Linked DNA regions of Homo sapiens: region 1 is linked to region 2. Evidence: fine-mapped expression QTL. A gene starts in region 2. The other region holds a variant in brackets. All regions are shown on one strand. Distances are between the middles of the regions. Region 1 has its middle 84 kb from the start of CASP4. Region 2 holds the start of CASP4 (caspase 4).

Region 1 (2,932 bases), 84 kb before region 2:
ACAAATGTACACATTTAAATTCCATTAGAACCCTATTTTAATTATCAGAAAACTTATACAGTCATTATAAAATTTACCTGGAAACACACACAGTATGTGACTAAGGACAGTAAGAACAAGAAAGGGCTAAAGAGGATGATCAAACAGTAATTAGCAATGTAATACAGCATAAGTCCTGAAAGATGAATCGGTGAATGTAACACTAATTATCTCTACCATAAACAATTGCCCACTGTGTGGCAGGCAGTGCAACAGGGAGGTGCTACATGCACATAATATTATACCTGCTCAATATGAGTCAGATACTAGCACGCCCACTTCATACCTGGAAACTGGTGTCAGATAAGCTAATTTATTAAAAGTACCATAATTAGTAATCTGAAAATTTATGATTCAGAAGGAGTCATTACACAATGAAGATGCTAATCAAAGAGAATGATTACCTGATTTTCAATGTTCTAGACCATATCTCCAGAGACCTAATTGTGGTTTGCTTTTTATAATGGAGGAATATGAGATTACCTGTTGTATGCTTATGTCGAAACTTTTTCTTTAAGCTAGTTTGAGTGAGTTTTAATCCCTCGTAGTAAAAGTTTCTCTAAAGTAGATACCAATGTCCAGTATTTTTCTTAAATATCGTCCAAGACACCCATTCCATAACACATTATAAATTAATATTAAAGACAATGTTACAATTGGTGTATATATATATATATATGATTATATATATATGATTCAAGTGGTGTATCATTGACAACTGGTAATTCATTGGAAAAAATCAATAATATCCCCATGTCACATTTCACTGCAAAATCATATTGTTTAGAGAATGAATTCATAAAATTTAAAGGAGAATAAGATATTTAAATATATCTTTAATATAATTGTAAGAAATTATAGGTAGTGATACAATATTTAAGCTTGAAAATATAAAAACAAACACAGAAGAAAATATAAATGGATTCTATTACTGAAAATGTGAGTATTCCACATCACATATCATACAGAAAATATAATATCAAAGAACTAACTAAAAATATTATATGACCTAATGTTATATGAGCTAATACACTGTCATATATAAAGGATTTATACAAATTGATAAGGAAAACACATATAAAATTTGAAATAAAATTTAAAAAATAAATTAACAGTTCACTAAAACACAGCAAATAAAGTGGTTAGAATGTCAAATAATGTCGATAACAAAAGACATGTCAATGAAACTGACTATTTTTACCTATTATATCAGTAATGATTTTTTT[A/T]AAAAAAAATTCCTCTACCTACCAGTCATTATCTTGAATTTCTTCTATGCATATAATTTGGCAAAAAATTTTGGCAATAATTTATCAAACAGTTTAAGTGTATGGATCCAGTAATTCTACTTTTTAGTAATACATTCTAAGAATATAAACCTCTTTCTAGACAAAAGTAAAAGTTAAACATATTCATAATCATATCAACCTAAGTGCCCATCAATGATAGACTGGAAGAAAATGTGGCACATATACACCATGGAATACTATGTAGTCATAAAAAGAATGAGTTCATGTCCTTTGCAGGGACATGGATGAAGCTGGAAATCATCATCCTCAGCAAACTAACACAGGAACAGAAAACCAAACACCATATATTCTCATTCATAAGGGGGAGTTGAACAATGAGAACATATAGACACAGGGAGAGGAACATCACATACCAGGGCCTGTCCAGGGGTGGGGGCTAAGTTGGGGGAGGGCATTAGGACAAATACCTAATGCACACGGGGCTTAAAACCTAGATGATGGGTCGATGGGTGCAGCAAACCACCATGGCACATGCATACCTATGTAACAAACCTGCACATTCAGCACATGTATCCCAGAACTTAAAATAAATTTTAAAAAAAGAAAAAGAAAGAGAGAGAAAAAAAGAAAAGAAAGAAGAAAGAAAGAAAAGAAAGAAAGAAAGAAAGAGAGAAAGAAAGAAAGAAAAAGAAAGAGAAAGAAAGAAAGAAAGAAAGAAAGAAAGAAAGAAAGAAAGAAAGAAAGAAAGAAAGAAAATAAATAGGAGACTTCAGAGAAAATAACAGATAAGAATCAGGCCTAACTTGCAGCTCGCACCTGGACAGACAGAGCAGCAGGTGGAGCTAAGCTGTGGGGACACAAAACCGTAAGAATGACACAATTGTCTCTGGGGACTTAGGGGAAAGGGTGGGAGTGGGTTGAGGGATAAAAGACTACACATTAGATACAGTGTACACTGCTCGGGTGATGGGTGCACCATAAATCACCACAAAAGAACTTATTCATGTAACCAAACACAATCTGTTCCCCAAAACTTATTGAAATAAAAAAAAAGTAAAATAAAATAAATGAATATTGAAATCAACATCTAAAAGTCAGGTGAAAGTTAAATAGTATGCCCTATATATACCTGACGAATATTATAAACTTAAAAGTTATATTTAGGATAGTTTTATTACTAGTAGTAATGTTATAACAATATAATAAAAGCACACAAAATTGGATATACAAAATAAATAAGCTATATAAAAAACTTGAGTTTTTATGAATAGTTTTAAAAAGGTTGATGATGATTATTTCTTCATTTTTTATGATTTTTAATACTTAATTTTTTCTCCTATAAGCATGACTTAATTTATGACAAAATTAGAAAACAAGCACAATTTTATAATAAAAATTTATTAAGCATTAATTTAGCAAAAATATGAGATTGATTTTAGCCTGGTATTTGAAAAGGTGGACAGCTGAGCAGTTTGGTATAAAAATATTCTTAATCAAAAATTGACCTTTTCTAATAGCAGATTCATAGACACCATAATGCCTTCATTTTCCTAGAGAAAGTAGAAGAAAAGAACATGAGTAATCTGGCTATTATCGGTAAGATGTAAATATAACTAATGTCTACTGTGAGAAATACTTTTACAAAA
Region 2 (2,918 bases):
CCACAGTTTTGGTTCCAGGCAAAGTGATGTAATGCTTAAACACATTACAGGATACAATTCCTCAAGAGTTTAAGGTAATAATAGCTGTCTACATTTGGTTGTTTATAATTATCAAACCACGACTTGTTTTTGACTAGTGGCTTTCAATTTACCCTATCTTTATCTAATGATCCCTTGATTCCAGAGCTTAAGTTAAATGTTGTGAAGTTAGACATAAACCCCGGAGAGAATTGTTCTATAGGGAGAATCAAAGGAGTAAAGAAACAACAACAAGGTAATATGAGTGAAGTAAATACAGTATTTTTTTATGAAGTTGAAATCATGCTTTACAAAGATTAATGGAAAAACTGGATACACATGTTTCAAAAGGTAGAAAAAATTGTCTGAAAGTTCAGATAGTAAAAAAGAGAAAAGGCAATAGGGAGCCACTGTATGTCCCTGAGCAAAGTTAATTACATTAATAGATCACTAGCAGATAAGCAGAGAGTGTTAACTAACTGGTCAACTTTCCTAATAGAACAAACCTATGTCAAGTCAGTTTCATAAGAATTATGTGACGATCTTCAAAGGTAATAAATGCCTGCAGGGTATTTAAGATTGAGCTATTCGCGGTGAGGAAGGGGGTAGTCATCTGACTTTTTTTATATGACTACAGATTGCTGCGATATGTTATAAGGTTTAGAATTCACTGATCTAGTCCAATTTCTTCCTTTTCCTGTGAGGAGAATGAAGCCAAAGAAGCGTTATGACCTGCTGGAATACTAGCTGCCTAAGTAACTCTATCCCTTAGGCTTTTTCAGCTTCTGTGTATAAGACAGGTGACCTAAAAGTTGTGTGCAGAATGGATTGGAGAGTTAAGTCCTGGAGGGAAGGATACCAGTTAAAAACAATAACAACGGCAAAACAAAACAACTGTGATATTAACCCATGAAATATTATATTAAAGTAGTCAGTATCAGGACCAACGAGAAAGAGGAAAAAATTGAATCACTTTAAACAGACCAAGAATGTAATTCACAATAAGAGATGTCGAAGAAGATAACAATTCAGAGGCTCTCAGATCTGATTCTGCGAAAAAGGTTTGTGATCTGGGCAATTAATTTGGAATCAAAAGAAAGATTTCAGAGTGCATTTCGAAACTTCTAGAATTGTCTCACACAAATAACTTCCTCTGGCTTTCTTTACCCTCCCTTTGATTACCAGAAGCTGAAAGAAAGGAATTAACTTCTTTCTGGCTCAAAGACATCTGGAAAACATATGACCTCCGTCAATATCTCTAACACCAGGTCCCATGATTCAAACTACACACAATCAGTAAGAAAAGGAATTCAACATGTGTGCTATCGGCTCACTTCCTTTCTTGTGTTTATTTCAGAGCAATAAATCAAGTGTTTTCTAAGTTCCTACTCCCAAACTCCTAGTCAGAAAAGGACTCACCTGCCATAGGGAACAGCCTCTGTCCTTTTTTACAGCGTTGGAAAGAGCCTCAGAGTCAAAAATGAAAGTAAACTATGTATTTCCTTATTGCAAAGGGCGGAAACGTGTAATTACAGATTGTGAAACTGCTGCTCAGAATTCCAGACTCATTATCAGGAAGTGCCTTGTCATCAGCAAATTGGCATCCAATTACTGGAATTTAGTTTCTGACTTGGGGGAAAAAAATGAAAATGACAAAATATTATCCTGTGGGTTGACACCTCAGCTTGTTTCTTTTCTTGTTTCCTGTGGCCACCCAAACTTCTTCTATCCATCTGTCTCTTCTCTTCCTGATCTCTCAGTTTTTCTTTCTCTGATTACAAAGAACGACAATGACTGAAGAAGTTTAATCTAACAACTCTTTTTCATTTCCTGATAAGAATTAACCCAATAGTTCATATTTCCAGCTTTTTGGGCAGGCACTGAGCTGCAGGAGTTTTTACATAGTCCAGCAGCTCCCGGAACTCTAGTGAGGCAGGAGTCCCGTCCACTCCCATGGAAAGGGGGCTGAAGCCAGGGAGCAAAATGGCCTTGCAGCAGGTCCATTCTCACAGAAGCCTGCAAGCTTAGATCCGCTGGATTAGAATCCCCACTAGCCAGCATAGCAGCCTGGAGTACGCCAGAGATGACCGAGTTCCCCAGGGGAGGGGCGACTGCCATTACTGCAGCTCTAGTCAGCGGTTTTTCCCTACCAGTGCTAGGGAGGCTGGGCAGATTGGACTGGGCAGCAGTCTTCACAGTGCAGCACAGCCGCTGTGGCAGATCATGGCCAGACTGCTTCTTTAGGTGGGACCGGGATCCATCCCTCCTCTCCCGGCAAGAAATGCTTGCAGGAATTTCAGCAACTCCACCTAGAGTTTACAGACAGAGCTCTCATTTCCCTGGTACAGAGCACCTGCGGAGAGGGGCAGCTGCGGTCTCAGGTTCAGCCAACTTAATCTTTCCTGCCTGCTGGCTCTGAAGAGTATCAGCGATCCAGACAAGGGGGATTCCCCCAGCCCAGTGCACCATCTCTGCTAAGGGATAGCCAGACTCTTTCCTTAAGTGAGTTCCTGATCCTGGGCCTCCTGACTGGGTTAGACCATTCAACAGGGGTTGCCAGACACCTCATACAGGAGAGTTCCAACAGGCGTCAGGTCAGTGATCCTCTGGGAAGAAGCTTCCGGAGGAAGGAGGAGGCAGCACTCTTTGCTGTTCTGCAGCCTCCATTGGTGATACATAGGTGAACAGTGTCTGGAGTAGATCCTCAGCACACTGCAGCAGACCTGCAGAGGAAGGGCCTGAATGTTGGAAGAAAAACAAAAAAAAATAAAACAACAATAACACAGCATCAACAAAAAAGACCCTACAAAAATCCCATCCAAAGGTCAACAGCTTTAAAGATTAAAGGTAGATAAATCCACAAAGATGACGAAAAACCAACGCAAAACCGCTGAAAATTC

Evidence for each region. PIP is the estimated chance that this variant, and not a neighbour inherited with it, causes the effect.
Region 1: its variant is fine-mapped to the expression of CASP4 in whole blood (TOPMed, PIP above 0.99).

What each region holds. Positions count from the first base shown.
Region 1 is chr11:104,883,267-104,886,198 of GRCh38, forward strand. It overlaps the pseudogene CASP12. Among named protein-coding and RNA genes, the nearest start is that of CASP4, 84 kb to the right of the region's middle. The variant A/T (reference allele first, on the strand shown) is at 1,266.
Region 2 is chr11:104,967,082-104,969,999 of GRCh38, forward strand. It overlaps CASP4 (caspase 4), which reads right to left and starts at 1,493. Exons shown (of 9, transcript NM_001225.4): 1 at 1,438-1,493. The coding sequence starts at 1,444. LOC124902813 (a long non-coding RNA gene) reads left to right here. Exons shown (of 2, transcript XR_007062986.1): 1 at 1-1,079; 2 at 1,204-1,499. RefSeq lists an enhancer at 1,293-2,492.